Linked DNA regions of Homo sapiens: region 1 is linked to region 2. Evidence: fine-mapped expression QTL. Tissue or cell type: whole blood. Region 2 holds a variant in brackets; the other region holds the start of a gene. All regions are shown on one strand. Distances are between the middles of the regions.

What was found. PIP is the estimated chance that this variant, and not a neighbour inherited with it, causes the effect.
Region 1: it holds the start of AGAP1, and the variant in region 2 is fine-mapped to the expression of AGAP1 in whole blood (TOPMed, PIP above 0.99).

The regions. Positions count from the first base shown.
Region 1 is chr2:235,489,218-235,497,320 of GRCh38, reverse strand. AGAP1 (ArfGAP with GTPase domain, ankyrin repeat and PH domain 1) reads right to left here and starts at 3,278. Exons shown (of 18, transcript NM_001037131.3): 1 at 2,472-3,278. The coding sequence starts at 2,634. RefSeq lists an enhancer at 1,151-2,024.
Region 2 is chr2:235,889,273-235,897,375 of GRCh38, reverse strand. The region is part of intron 10 of AGAP1 (ArfGAP with GTPase domain, ankyrin repeat and PH domain 1); the gene reads right to left. Among named protein-coding and RNA genes, the nearest start is that of GBX2-AS1, 270 kb to the left of the region's middle. RefSeq lists an enhancer at 3,982-4,482. The variant A/G (reference allele first, on the strand shown) is at 3,695.

The sequences.
Region 1 (8,103 bases), 400 kb after region 2:
CGCAGGCTTAGTTGCCAGCACTGGGTTCCTGCCATCCACATGCAGTGTGGAGACAGAAACTCCATTCAAATGATCCCTTGGTTCAGATCAGACTTCAAACCACCTCAGTCAAATGTTAAGGAGGTCATTATCCCTCCCTGAACCTCCACCCGCTCCTCCATAAAATGAGGATGAGGAAGCTACCCACCCACCCTCACAGGGTTGGTGAAGCCACACAATGAGACTATACATGCAAAAATATTTCTGTTAAAGTTCTACAGAAATGAAAAGTGGTATCATTATTGATAACAGAAGAACATGCAAAGAACAGCAGCATGTCTGAGTGGTTCTTAAGCCTCACTAAATTAACTACAGCTCCACATAATGTAGACATCCCTATTTCTAAGAGAAAAATAACAGCATCACCCCAGTCCCAAACAGGATTCACCCAATGATTCTAAGCCTTATTAAAAATGACAAGGATCCCGGCCAAGAAGGGGCCTAAAATCTCAAATCGCAAAGGTAGGCATCGTGCTGTCAAAAAAAACCATCATCTAGGAACGACGCATTTTTTTTTTCTTTTAAGGGAGAAAGGAAAATGCAACCACATCCTCTTGCTAGAAAGTCAAACTGCTTTGCTGGAAGTGCTTGAGCCCCAGAGCTCAGCTTCAAGAATGGGAAATAAAAACGAGGTGTTGTGAACCCCACTCAGCCAGAGGTCTTCATGCAGCAAAAGAGGCTCTCAGCCAGGTGCCTTCAATACCTGACGCCGGCTTTCACAGTGTTTCATCAGACTTCTGTGGATGCAGCCAGAGAGCCAGGAAGAACCATCTGAAATGAGCACCGTGCAGCCTTCACAGCTCCCGTAACAGACGCAGAGCTGGAGCTCTGGAGGAACCTTGCTGCAACACCACCTGATCATCAGCAGATGGGTCCAGGTCCCACCGCCACTCATCACGAGTCATGCAGAGGCAGACAGAGCCCATCTCTTGAGGAATCCACAGAGCATCTTAAGTCACCAACAAGGCAGCCAGGTGACCTCATGGGAGACAGATACACACAAAGGGCTAGGACCCCATAAGGCTGGAGCTCCACCCGGATCCTCCCCTGGAATTAACAAGTCCCCCAAGGGTATAGTCTGCCAGTCATCCAGCCTGGCTGGGACATGGTTCAAGTCTACAGGGCTGCCAAATGCCAAGGGCTCAGCAACACAACATCCACTTTCTCCACCTAACTGGCCAAGTTTCAAACCAAAGCACTTCGGGGTTAGTAGTTCAGACTACATAGTGCCAAGGCAAAGCCTCTCTGTGGGCTGATACCCTCTCCCTCACAGAGGGAGGAGGCTGGGCAACGCCAGCACCAGGCTTTCAGGCACATTCCTGCCGGCTTTGGGCCATTCTCAATGTTCCTCAATAGAGGTCTTACCGGCCAGTCTGTATTATGGACAAGCCACTCTGCAGGCTTTTTACCATCACTGGCCAACAGCGCTGAGAAGGGAGAAAGTGCTGATCAACTGTGGCTAAGATATGACTCCACACTGTCCACGCACATGCCACCTGGTGCCCCAGGTGAGTCTTGGCCGGACCAAAGGGATGAAGCAAGAAAATAAATCAGCAGCCTGGAAACAGAGAAATGAGAGCCACCAGAAATCCAGAGGGCACAGCCCCGGAAGGCAGACTGCTGCTGTAGCTCTCCTGGAAGGCCATGGCCCTGCCTGACATGCAGAGGGAAGCGGGTGGGGATTCTGCCCAAGCATCCTGCCCCTCTTAAAACCACAGCACCCTCCACTTCAGTGGCCTCCAACTGCAGACATATGAAAGCGAGACCCTTCCGCTGGAGGACGCCCTGCCCTCCTGGTAGGGTTCTTCCTCTAATCCAACCCCGGACTTTTGGTTGGTACAAAGCACACTACCGGTTCCAGCGTTTGCACAGGGGCACCTGGACACGATGCTCCCGCGGCTAGGGCTGGCTCTCGGCATCCACTAAGTTCAACTGCACCCCTGAATTAAGCAAACACACTAAGGAGGGCAGCCCTGCACCGCCCAAACACGCCGGCCCGGGCCTCGCCCCCAGCGGCAGCACTTCTCAGAACACGTCTTCAACGTCCAGCAAGACGCCCAGGCCTGGCCTGGTAACCTGTCAGGGGTCGGGTGGCGCCGACCCCGCCGGCTGCCCCCAGGCGTCTGCTGGGCCGGGACGCTCCGGCAGCCCAGGACGCGGAGGCACCGAGCCACTTTCCCGCAGGAGAGACTCTATTGTCCACGATCAAATTAACGCTGACGATCTATCTTCCTGGCGGAGCTCGCGGCGCGGCGGGGCGCAGGCGACGCTCGCCCGGCCTTGCAAGACAAGCAGCGCCGCAGTGCTCCCTCGGCGGAGCAGCCGCGTGCCCCGGCCGGCGTGTGTGGACACCCGCACGCACACAGCGCACACCCCCGCCGCGCCGCGGGCGTCCGTGCCTTCCCGAGGCCCCAAGGCGGCCCGGCCCTCACCTTCGATGGCGATGACGTGCTCCCGGATCTGGTTCTGCAGCACCGGCTCCTCCACGCGCTCCAGCAGCTCGTAGATGGAGTAGATGTTGGGGTGGACCGACTCGAAGCGCTGGATCTCGGCCCGGATGGCAGCCGAGTTGGCCAGCTGCTGCTGGTAGTTCATGGTGCAGGCGCCGCGCCCGGAGCCGCGCGCCCCCCGCCGCCGCCGCCCCGCGCCCCGGGGCCCGCGGGCCGCCGAGCCCGGGGCGCCGCAGCCCCCGGGGAGCCGGGCCCGCCGGCGGCGGGCGGAGGAGGCGCGAGAAGAAAGGCGCGGGCGGAGCAGGCGCGGGGCTGGCCCGCGGGCTCAGTTCATGGCCGGGACGCGCGGCCGGCGAGCGAGCGGGCCCCGGCGTCCCGGGTCAGCGGGCCGCCCGGGGGGAGCGCGCCCCCATGGAGCGCGCCGCGGCGGGTGCGGCCGGCCCCGAAGGAGGCTTGCTCGGGTGACTTCCTGAGCCGCAGCCGCCTTCCAGCCCTAGGCGCTGCTCCGCGGAGCAGCCATTAAAGCCCAGGCAGCCGCCGCGCTCCGAGCGCCGGGGCCGAGGGCCGACCCCTGGGCAGTGTGGCCGCGCTGCTCTGGGCTCCTGGCCGTGGCGTGGGTCCGCGCGCTGCGTACTGCGCCGCCCGGCGCGCCGGGGCCCCCGCGCGAGCCCGCCGTGCGCCGCCCGCCGACCTGGGACCGAGTCGCAGGCGCCTTGCAAGCCGCGGAGCCCGCTCCGAGCGCCGCCCGCCGCCTGCCCGGCCGGCCCCCTCCCTGGCACGCAGGGCTCCGGCCCACGTCGGCCCCGCCCCCGCCTTCGCCCTCGCCCGCGCCCGCGCCCGCGCCCCGCCTGCCCGCGCGCTTGCCGCCCTCCGGCCGCCGGCGCTGCGTCCTCCTCGGCGCTTCCCAGCGCGCCGGATCCCGGGGAATTGCGCCAGGCCCCGCCCCGCGCCTGCCTCTGGGCTTCCTGGGACTTGTAGTCCGCGCCCCCGGCGGGCCGGGCCAGGGGGGTGCGCGGGGTGTTCACACTGGGCCGGGGTGCGGGACCCTCCCGCCGGCCAGGCCCCGCGCCTGCCAGCTCCTGCCCGGGTTCTCGCGGCGGCCCCCGCGCCCCGGCACGGGGGAGGCTGCCCGGGAGTTCGCCCGCCGCGTTGTTGTTTGTTTCCAAGCGGCTGGCTCCAGGAGCCTCTGCGACTCGCCAGTGTCCCACGGCCTCGCTTGGTTGGCGAGCCTCCCCTTCCCGCGTTTGGTAACTTTCTGCCTCCTTTCTCAAAGTAGCACACGTGCTTTCCCTTAATACATGCGATTTCTTTCCAAAGGCGAAGCGCCTCCTGAGCCCATGCGGCGTGGGGGTCCACACTCCACGAGTGGACTGAAGTTTAGACAGGGGTGCGAGATGCGACAAAATACCACAGAGGCTTTCGAGGCATCCTTCTCCCTTACAATTTTTAAAAATCGAGCCGTGGATCTCAAGCTGCTGCCTCCTGAGCGCCGCTGCCTGCTCCACGGGGTTCCTTAGCCCCTGGACCGTCTGTCCCACCGCAATCCCCGATTTAGGTCATCCCCGGGGACCCCCCGCGGAGCTGGGACCGCACTGCAGCAGCGCTTGGAAGGCTCGTCTCGCCGCTTTGAGGCAAATGGGACCCTTCAGATTTGCGGAAGCACTGGCTGCCGGGCGGTCCCACAAGGTCCTGGATTGAGGACACTGGCTGAGTCCCTGCCCCCAGCCATCGGCGTGGTCTTTCTGAAACTCAGCCAGCCGGGCCGGCATCCCCGTTTAAAGCCTGCTGAGCCTTCACCGGCTCACATGCAGTTTGCTATGGCCTAAGCACCCTGGTATCCAGCCGTGTTGGCTTACTGGCTGGGCTCCACAACTTCCCAAAGATGTGCTGACATTTTTACCATTCCGGACCTGCTTGTCTTCTCCTTGACACTTAGGCACAGGTCATCACTCCATGCCTCGGGCTGTCCACGCATAAGTAACTCTAGTAACCAAGAGGCAGGCATGTGGCCTCACCAAACCTGACCTATCAGCAGCAGCTGATCACTTGCGCTCCTGGAAACCCCTTCTCCCAGTGCTCACCAGGGCTTCCTGCTGTGTTTCTGGCTTCACTGTCCCTTTTGTGGTTTTCTTCTACTCCCCTAACCTCTAAATATGGAGGGCCCCAGGGCTTATGGTTAGGCCTCTTTTCTTTGCTATTTGCTGTGATCGCCCCTGTCTTATGGCTTTGAATATCATACACAGGTTAATGAAGCTCATATGTATCTCCAGCTGTGACCTCACCCCTGAATAACAAATTCACATCCACCTGCATCCTCAACATTTCCTGAAGCCTAGCTGGTGTTTAAGTCCAGCATGTCGCCAGCTGAACTCCTGCCATCCCTTCCGGCTACATCTCCTAAAAATCTTCTCCATCCCAGTCATCGGCAACTCCAGGCCACCATTTGCTTAGGCGAAAAATTCAGTGCTGTCCTTTTTGCTTATCATTCTCTCATATCCCAAATGGTGTCAGCTCCACCTTCAGAGGATCCAGAATCCCACGACTTCTCACCACTCGGCTGAAGTCAGGATCATCTAGCTGGACCATCACTAGATCTAACAATTGTAATAGCTCACTGCTTCCTACCTGGTGAAACTTACAAAACCTACGTCCGGACTTGTCATGCCTTTTCTCAAAACCCTCCAATGACTCCCATCTGGCCTCGCCCCACAGGCATGAGCTCTTATCAAGAGCTGCTCAGGGGCTGAGCTATTCCCCTACTTGTAAGCTAACAAGTTAGCCTGCCACAATTCATGGATGCTGGCAGAAGACATGAGACTCCCAGATCAGAAACAAAGGACTTTGTTATTCATAATAGTAGCATTAGCTGGAATATCAGCATTTTCATGCACCAGTTTACTGAGACCCAATTCCCACGGGCAACATGAGGCCCAGGTGAAGCCTGTACTTGGAGTCAGCTGCCCTATACGAGTTTTATAAGTTTTTAACCCTTAGCTTAGAGAGCTCAGATCTTTCATACGGGCAGTAAGTGTGTCTGCCCTTCACTCCAGAGGGAGACACTGTTTTTATCATGGACAGTAAGCATGTCTACCCTTGACTGTGGCAGAAAACATTATCTCTGTCTTCCAAGGCTGTTTGCTCTGCAAACATCCTTGAGAATATAGTCCAGAGCAAAGGCGCCTGGTGTCTCTACCTGTGTACCTGTGTTACCCAGCAAGGGCTGCCATAAAAACCTTCCACAGGCCTGGCATGATGCCTCATGCCTATAATCCAACACTTTGGGAGGATTGCTTGAGCCCAGGAGTTCGAGACCAGCCTGGGCAACATGGTGAAACCCCATCTCTACAAAAAATACAACAATTAGCCAGGCACAGTGGTGTGAGCCTCTAGTCCCAGCTACTCCGGAGGCTGTGCAGGGAGGATGGCTTGAGCCCAGGAGGTCAAGGTTGCAGTAAGCTGTGATCATACCACGGCACTCTAGCCTGGAGGACAGAGCAAGACCATCTCAAAAAAAAAAAGGCCGGGCGTGGTGTCTTACGCCTGTAATCCCAGCACTTCGGGAGGCCGAGGCAGGCGGATCACGAGGTCAGGAGATCGAGATCATCCTGGCTAACATGGTGAAACCCCGTCTCTACTAAAAATACAAAAAAATCAGCCGGGTGCAGTGGCGGGTGCCTGTAGTCCCAGCTACTCGGTAGGCTGAGGCAGGAGAATGGCGTGAACCCGAGAGGTGGAGGTGGAGCTTGCAGTGAGCCAAGATCGTGCCACTGCACTCCAGCCTGGGTGACAGAGGGAGACTCCTTCTCAAAAAAACAAAACAAAACAAACACACAAAAAAAACTTCCACAGGCTGCATGGCTTTAACAGAAATCCATTTTCTCAAAATGCAGGAGGCTCAAAGAGCCAAGATCAAGCTGTTGCAGGGTTGGTTTCCCCTTGGCTTGTGGATGCTGCCTTCTCACTGTGTTCTCACAGGGTCTTTCCTCTGTGTGTCTGTGTCCCCATCTCCCCTTCTTAGAAGAACTCCATTCATATTGGATTAGACCCCTTCCTAATGACATCGTCTTAGCTTAGTCATCTCTTTCAAGGTCCAATTTCTGAATATAGTCATATTCTGGGGTACTGGGAGTTAGGACTTTAATATATGAATTTTGGGGACATAATTCAGCCTATGACTGTCTCTCTCGCCACAGCATCTCTACTTCTAGCCTGTTCTCTCCTCTTCGGCCACACTGGCCTCCTTGTTGCCCCCTAAATATACCCATCACACCCCCACCCTTGTCATCTGCTTCTCTGTCTCCCTGACCCCTTCACCAGGACTTTTGTTTCCTTATGTATTTGCTCCAAAGCCACCTTCTCAATGCGACTTTCCCTAACATCTTCTCTAAAATGGCATCCCTGTTCCCCAACACTTCATGTCCCCCTTCCTTGCCACAGTAGAAAGAATAATGGTCCCCTAAGATGCCCACATCCTAATCCCTGAAACAAGTAGATATGTTAGTCTAAGTGGCAAAGGACTTTACAGGTCTGATTAAATTAAGGACCTTGAGATGAAGATATTATCCCAGATTATCTGAGTGGGCCCAGTGTAATCACAGGAGGCCTTATACGAGGAAGGCAGGAGGGTCAGAATCAGAGGAGATATGATGACAGGTGTAAGAGAGAGAGAGAGGAGAGGAAGGCAAGGGAGAGAGAGAGATTGGAAGATGCCGCTGGGCTGACTTTGAAGATGCAGGAGGGGGCCACCAGCCAGGGAATGTGGGCTGCCTCTACAAACTGGAAAATGGAAGAAAACAGATTCTCTCCTAGAGATTCCAGAAGGATCACATCCCTATTGACCCATTTTTGGACTTCTGACCTCCAGAACTATAAGATAATAAATTTTTGTCATTTAAGCCACTAAATCTGTGCTAATTTGTTATAGCAGCAATGGGAGATTAATGCACTTGCTTTATGTTTTTCTTAGCACTTATTCCCGTCTAACTCACCATATACTTTAGTTATTTATCTTGTGTATGGTTTGTGTCCCCCATTAAAACATAAGCTCCACAAGGGCCAGGATTAATTTTTGTCTGTTTTGCTCCCCATTCTATTCCAGTGTCTATAACAGTAGCTGACACATAGTAGCTACCCAATAAATGTTTGGCAAACAAACAGCTTCCCCATTAAATTATAATTGTCATGAAGACAAGGACCATATTTCTCTTGCACAGGGCTTGGAGCATTATAATGCAACAAACGTTCAATAAATTAATTAATCAACAATATCTCTCCTATGGTAAGAGCTGTTCTCTCATCATGCCAGGCACATAGTAGGTGCCTAATAAAGATTTGCTGAATTAAAATGGAAGTTTCTCCAGCAACATGGGACCCAGTGACATTTACCAGGAATGTGCTGCAGATTTATCTTCTGTGAATAGAGCCAAGAATTCTAGCCGTGTGTGTGTGTGTGTGTGTGTGTGTGTGTGTGTGTGTGTGTGTGTGTGAGACGGTCCTTCCAGGCACTTATAAGCTCTGAGTGAAAACTCCACTGTGAGAGCAAGCCAAGCCTTAAAGTAGTGAACGTCTTCTGTCCCAGAAATATCAAAGATGGTTTGAATGATCAGCCCATTCA
Region 2 (8,103 bases):
TATTTAGTGGTATAATTTTTAGAAACATGAGGACTTGGTCAGGCGTGGTGGTTCACGCCTGTAATCCCAGCAGGTTGGGAGGCCGAGGTGGGCGGATCAGTTGAGGTCAGGAATTTGAGACCAGCCTGGCCAACATAGCAAAACCCTGTCCCTACCAACAATATAAAAATTAGCCGGGCATGGTGGAATTGCTTGAACCCTGGAGACAGAGGTTGCAGCGAGCTGAGATCACGCCACAGCACTCCAGCCTGGGCAACAGAGCAAGACTTTGTCTCCAAAAAAACAAATAAAACCAAATAAAACAAAAAACAAACAAAAAAAGAAATAAGAGGACTTTATTTTGTCCAGTCTCACCCTGCTTCCATTCACTGTGTGTCAACAACATCAATAATGAAATGTCGTGAGGATAGCTTTCGGCCCTTTTATTTTTAAATCCCAAACATTTCCAAACCCTGAGGGTATATAAAACAAAGAAAGAATTACATAGACAGAAATAGACTTTGATACAGAGTCCTTTTCTGTGTTGGTGTAACACCAGTGAGTTTTTAGTAGGCTCCATTTCCAACAAAAGTTGTCACTATGCCCTGAAAACATTTCTACTTTTATGGCGGCCTAATTCCTTGGCTTTGGAACTGTTGACACATGGGAGAAACAACTGATCACATTCTTTCAAACAGGTCACATGAATGACAAAGTTCTTTCCCAGGTCACCCAGGTGCTTAGCAAACTCCAGGAGAGCCCATGTGACCATGTCATTGCTGGGTGGTTTTCTTCTTCTTATCACATGGCTTCCAGACCACCATGCATGTTATGAAGCCTGCACAGTTCACTGTGGTCAGGACTGGGCCCAGCAAATGTACCATGACCAGAGTGCTGGTAAGGTTAGGCAGGTTTAATATTCAGCCATACTCTGTAGCTTTCCCATGTTACAGTTTTTACATTTAAAACCCAAGCTCTGAAGAGTTATCTGTATGCTCACATTCCTAGCAGCATTGTCCACAGTGGCCAAGAGGTGAAAGCAAGTGTCCATCCATGGACAAACAAAATGTGGTGTGTACATATGACGGAATATTACTCAGCCTCAAACAGGAAGGAAATTCTGACACACACTACAACTGGAAGAATCTTGAGGACATAATGTTAAATGCAACAAGCCAGTCATAAAAAGACAAACAGCATATGACTTCATTTATATGAGGTTCCTAGAGCAGACAAATTCATAGAGACAGAAACTGGAATGCTGGTTGCCAGGGGCTGAGTGGAGGGGGGATAGGAATTTGTGTTTATGCGTAGAGTTTGTTTTGTAAGATGAAAAAGTTCTGGAGGTTGACTGCCCAACAACGTGAACGTATATGATACTACTGAACAGTATACTTAAAATGATTAAGGTGGCAAATGTTGTATGTATTTTACAATTAAAATGAAAAAAGCAACAAACAAAATCCTGAAGCTTTTCTCCCATCAAGATCCTTCTTTAAGTTGCAGCAAATGGAGCCAGAATATGGCTGAGACATATTTCTGCTTCCTAAAAGTGTTGCATGGTGGATTCCTTCCACGAGGTTTTAGGAACTCTAGTCCGACACATTTAAGGAAAGGTTAAGCATATGGGCTAATTGTGCCTCCATTCATCCATCCATCCATCCATCCATCCATCCATCCATCCATCCATCCATCCAACAAGCCAGTGTTCCAGATGTTAGAGATACATTGGTGACATATACATCCTTGCCTCAAGGAGCTTCCAGTCTTGTGGGAGAATCAGAGAGATGGCCCAATAGAGTAACGTGAGAGCACACACAGCATGGGTGCCCAAATAGGCCGAGTGTGGGGAAACTCCCAAGAGGAAGTAGCATTTAAGCCAGGATTGGAAAGAGGAGTTAGTGAGGCAAAGAGATGGGGCAGAAAAGAACATTCTCAACAGAGGCAACTGCATTTGTGAAGACCCGGAGGCCAGATAACATGGCAAGTATGAGAAACTAAAAGAAAACAAAGACAGCGATAGAGCAGGAAGCAGGTGAGAGGCCAGTCTGAGGAGGCAAGCTGGGGCAAGAGCAGGGGCACGGACATCAACCAAGCGGGAGAGGGGATCTTCTCCATCATGGAAATACATAAAAGAACTCAAAGGAGGGAAATCAACAAAAATATGATGAGAATCACAAGGTGAAAGTTAAAAGCAGCTTAGGAGTAACCGCTATTCTTCATACAGCCTACAGGTTTTGGAAAACTTTATGAGCAGGCCACTGCGCTAGCTGAACTGAGCAAAAATGCAGGCCTGCACACTCAGGGGAGTATGGTCTGCAAGATCACCTCTGTGTGACTTCTGGCGTCATTCTGGATGAATTCCCAGGAGGAAGAGAAAACGGAGGCCGAGGCCGAGGCTGTGGGTGGAGGAAGAAGAGCTACCAAGCAATCACTGCATAATTGACCTTGAGAGGCTCAGTGATTCTCACACTGTGCCTGAGTCCCAGGACTCCACAAAGCCACGTTGGAACCAACATGGAAGCGGGTGGGGCAACGGCAGAATCGGAAACCACAACTGATTCCCAGCTCAGTGTTCTTTGACCTGCACACCAGAAGGATCAGCTAAGAGAGGAGCCGAATCACACTTTAGAATAAAGGAGGGAAGAGATCTTAAGATGGAAGGAGGTAATTTAGATTTGCAAGCCACAAAGTTCCAATGCCTTTACTTCACAATCTACAAGTTGAAATGAAGTTGTGCCCATAGCTGTGTGTGTGTGTGTACATGTGCATGTGTATGTTTAAGTGTGTGTGTATGTGTGTGTGTATGATGTATGTATGGTCCTATGCATGTGTTCACAATACATTTTCACATCCATTTTCTGTTGGAAGCTGCTTCAAATCCTATCTTGGGAAGAGGCAGAGCTGCAGTATGACTTGAAGTAGGCAGTATCTACACGTCAAGGTTCTTGGGGTGACATTCACACCACTGGCTTGAAGGGCCAGATATCCCTGTGAAAGCAATCCACACGGAAAGCTGGACTCTGGCTGTTCCCAGGGAAGCGAAGAACATCACGGACTCAAGGATGTGAGTGTAGGCTCTGTTCAATGGGGATTATCTCTTCGGTCCCAAGAATAGCCAACCAACTGGGGATTCTTCCTGCTTCCCCCGAGCTGACTCCTGCCAGTCTTAGAAACTTGCAGAAATACCCGTTGCGGTTCATATTGTTTCCAAAAGCATTCCCATTTGCCTAAAACAGGCAGCTCAGGCTAGAACAGCAACGTTGGTTTGTTGCCATAGTTCCAGATCTTTGTTCTTTAATATCCGTACAATCTCCTCATATGCCTCTAAATGGATTGCTTTTTGGATTCCAGTGATGTGTTTAGATTTTGCAGCATTTGTAATAATGCCACGTGAGGCAGTGATTACGTGTGTGTGTGTGTGTTCACCCAACCCTATGTCAGTTTAGGGAGGTCATGTTGTAAGACATGGTGAGTACTGTTAGTCTCAATCATACCACAATCTGTAGAGCACAGCCAGGATTGTCAATGTTGAGGGCTGGAGTCCAGGAAGTTCAGGAGCAAAGATGCTGAAGGAGTCACACGATTGGAAACTTCATTGTGGTGGCACTCAAGTCACTGTGACCGGTGTGTACTAAGCAATACCTATGTGCCACTCACATGACAGCCCCTGGGCAGACTGTGGGGAACACAGCCCTCCTCCTCAATGACATAC[A/G]CTAGATGGGGCAGAAAGGGACATTCTCACCCGAGGCAATGATGTACACTAGATGGGGCCTGGGAATCAGGGAGGGCCATGAAGGCACATCTGCATGACGGACACGGCGCACCCTCATGATGGACACGGCACACCCGCACCACAGACATGGTGCACCCTCGTGGACATGCCACACCCACGCCACAAACATGGCTCACCCTTATGATGGACATGGTGCACCCGCACCACAGACACAGCTCTTCCTTATGATGGACACGGCACACCCACACCAAAGACACGCTACACCCACGCCACAGACACAGCACACCCCTATGATGGACACGGCACACCCACACCACAGACAAGCCACACCCATGCCACAGACACGGCACACCTGCGCCACAGACACGCTACACCCACGCTACAGACACGGCGCTTCCTTATGATGGACATGGCACACCCGCGCTACAGACATGGTGCTTCATTATGATGGACATGGCACACCCACGCCACACCCGCGCCAAAGACACAGCGCTCCCTTATGATGGACACGGTGCACACTACGCCACAGACATGGCGCACCCTTATGAGGACACAGCACACCCGCACCACAGACACAGCACATGAAAGGCCAAAGGACAGCTCCAAGCACCTTAGCTTATGACCAAGAAAGCAAGATGAAATAATTTTTGATCTTAAGATGAATCACGCCTTCTGCAGCAGCGTGCCAGACTTGACATGTCTGACTACGCTCTTCTCAGTAAGAAAGGGAGGTCTGTCTTTTTGGTCTTCCCAGCTTCACATCTGAAAATCTGGCCTTCACATTTGTCAGTCCAGTAGCCTGCACAGGAGTTATTCTGACTGTTTCAATGTTCTGGGGAAACCAGTGAAAAGTTTCTCTGAGTGTAAATGAATGTTCACGACCTCAAGAAGTCTGAGGTCCATCCTAGCAGACAGTGAAGGTGGGTGAAGAGATGGATCACAGATTCTTCGTGAATCTTCAATCCTCAAGTAAAATGTTGCAGTCCTATGTGAGGAATTCGTGTATTTACAAAGGCAGTTACAGGCACTGAGCACAGCCACGAGCTGCTATTCTCATAGCAATCTTTTTTTTTTTTTTCTTGAATGATTTCTTTTGAGGAAAATACCTACTTAGGAATCATCACAGATCTTTTTGTTGTCTTTACATCAGTAAAGAAGTGGGTCTTCTGTCTGATTTTGAAACTAGAAACTTTCTGAAATCTGCATTCTGATGATAATTTTAGAGAGTCCAAGTTTGGCTGCCCTGGCTTTGAAAGAACAAAACCAAACTTTGACGACACACAGAATCAAAGGGTTTATGTGTTGCAGGAGAGTCCAAGCCACTCAGATAGAAATTAACCTGCCTAGTAATGAAAAGAAGAAAAGCTCTTTAACAATTTTAAAGGAGGAAAATTTAAGAAGGAAAATTCCAGTATTGCAGGTCAGGGAGAAATGACAGAGCCACAGCTGTTTTAATGTGGGCACATGCAGAATGGAAAGGAATCTAAGAAGGACTTTTTTTTTTTTTTGAGATGGGAGTCTCACTGTTGCCGAGGCTGGAGTGCAGTGGCACCACGTCGGCTCACTGCAACCTCCGTCTCCTGGGTTCAAGCAATTCTCCTGCCTCAGCCTCCCAAGTAGCTGGGATTACAGGCACCCACCAGCACACCTGGTTAGTTTTTATATTTTTAGTAGAGATGGGGTTTCACCATATTGGCCAGGCTAGTCTTGAACTCCTGACCTCAGGTGATCCATCCACCTCAGCCTCCCAAAGTGCTGGGATTACAGGTGTGAGCCACCACACCTGGCCAGAAGGAGGTTTTTTAAAAGTCTGACCAGTTCATGCACGTCTGCCAGGTATGGCCCGGAGGGGAGGAGTTTCACAGCTGCCAAACGACCTCCTGAGGAAGCCCAGAGAGCCAGGACCGGAACACTGGTGAGCTTTCCTAGACAGGGGCACCTTGAAGTCCTTGGCTTGACCGTGAGGCCACTCAGCTCATCCTTCCAGGTCCACTTAGGAATCTCACTGCACACATCTTTGTCAGCAGGGAATTGCAGCCTTGCACTCGACGGCCGTGCTTGCGACATGGAAGATGAATAGGTGGCCACGCTGAACTGTGAAGCCCTGAGGTCCAAGTTCTTTCTCATTATGCCTCCATTTTTCTATCAAGGTGCTCCCTAAGGCTCACATTTAAGTCCACAGAAAGGGACTCTCAGGGTCTTAGAACAGGCTGCCCTCGATCCACCTGAACTGTGATCCAGCAAAGTGTCTGAAAACCATGAGACACTCATATATATTTCCCCCAAGAAAGTTAAGCAGTTAGGGCTTTTTAAAGGTCTTGGAGACATACAATTTTTCAAAGACACAAAAATGTAGACCGCAGAGCAGCAGCATCAGCCAGCGTGCTTGCTTTGACCGTGTCAGTCTTATTTAAATGTTTAGGGTTATCATTGCAAAATGCGAAGTGGAGATAAAGGAGCTGTTAGGGCGGTCAGTACTGCAGCAAGTGCGGCCAGGTCCCAGATTGCCTGGGACTTCCCTGATGTTAGCTATGAAAGTCCTGCACCCTGGGAACCCCTCAGTCCTGCAGAAAACCAGGGCAGTTGGCCACTCCATTAAGGCAGTTTCATTCATTATTTGGTTGAGTTTTCTATCTGTTATCTCAACTGGGTTTTGGTTTCATTTAATAATAGCATCTTGAGAAAGAAAGATGAATTAACTGAGGTGTTTTTTTTTTTGAGCCTCAGTTTTAGTCTTACACCCAGTAGCTTCAACTTCAGGACAGCGTTTTCCTTAGAAATCCAACTAACTCCATTAGCTTGAGTTTGCTGAGAGTTTTTGGTGAAAGTTTTAGAGCTCACATTCTTCAGAGTCTGAAGTGACCTAGAAGACAATGTCATCAAACTTCCTACCCAGTGAAAGAATTCGTTCTCCATGTTTCTAAAACGGACACCTTCCAGCCAGTTTCCCAATGTCTACCTTCAAACACACCCACTAGAACGGATGTAGCCTGAGCGTCTGCAGCAGGGCACCTCTGTGTGATCTGAAAGCTATGCAGGTGTGCTCCAGCTCCTGGACAGGCTGGGCAGCCCCCGCCCACTGTCAACTGGTGGCTGAACATACTCTGTGAGGGAAGCAATGATGTGGACGCTGTAGGTTCATTCACCCCTCCCCACTCTGGTGCTGTCCTTGTTATCCTGCCCCACCACTGGCCTTTAGGAATAACCACAGCTGGGCAGAGTGGCTCATGCCTATAATCCCAGCACTTTGGGAGGCTGAGGCGGGTGGATCACTTGAGGTCAGGAGTTTGAGACCAGCTTGGGCAACATGGTGAAATCCCATCTCTACTAAAACAAAAAATTAGCCAGGCGTGGTGGTGCATGCCTGTAATCCCAGCTACTTAGGAGGCTGAGGCAGGAGAATCACTTGAACCCAGAGGTTGCAGTGAGCTGAGATCGTGCCACTGCACTCTAGCCTGGGGGACAGAGTAAGACTGTCTTAAAAAAAAAAAAAAAAAAGGGAATAACTACAGTGGAAATCTACCATCACTTCCTCCTGTGCCCATACCTCCTTCTCTCAACCTACACAGCATGGAAGTGCAGGGACCCCATCATCCTGAGGCAGCCAGTGCTAACACCTCCTAAGCCTTTGGGGAAGAGCTGAAGGAGGCTGGGAGATGTGGCTGTGGGTGATGGCTGGGGTCAAGACTTCACAGAACCCAAGCTGAGCAGATCTGGGGCCTGGAGGTTATCACTGGCATAAACTTTCATGGAGCTTTCTTAGTCTGAGTTGGCTCCATGTTTTGCTTCTTTTCCCCTCTGATTTCCAGGGAAATTATCACATCCTATGACCTGGCTATTCCATAAGCAATTCTATTCCACTGCTTAGAAACAGAGGTTCTCTCCTAAGAAAAAGGTTTGAGGTTTTCAACAACATGAAACAGACCTGGAGAAAAAGGTTTCCCTCCATATCTTCTATCTGTGGTGTAGGAAGGGTATGTAGATTTAGCTTATGTCCTAAGTAAAGGACAGAGTGAGGCTGAGCTGCAAGTCAAAGGAACTAGGGATTACTGGTCTCCTAAACAATCTATGTAAGGACTGAGCTTGGGGCTCAGGGCTAAAAAAAAAAAAAAAAGGCAAAGACACTTTTGGGGGATGACGAGAAAGGAAAGAGAAATCCAAAGCAATTAAGTGGGAAGGAAAGTGACATCCCAGGGCCACCACCCAGCTGAAGTCCCTTGTCATGATCTTCTGCAAGTAGAAAGCTGCCCCAGTTCTGAGGGAGACACGCAGTCCCTGGGGATCAGTATTCGTGAGGTTCCCAGGCAGCCGACCCATTCTAGGTACATTTTCAGCCTCACACCAGCCCCACGGTGTCCTGCAATGTCAGGTTTCCCCAGTTTCATGAC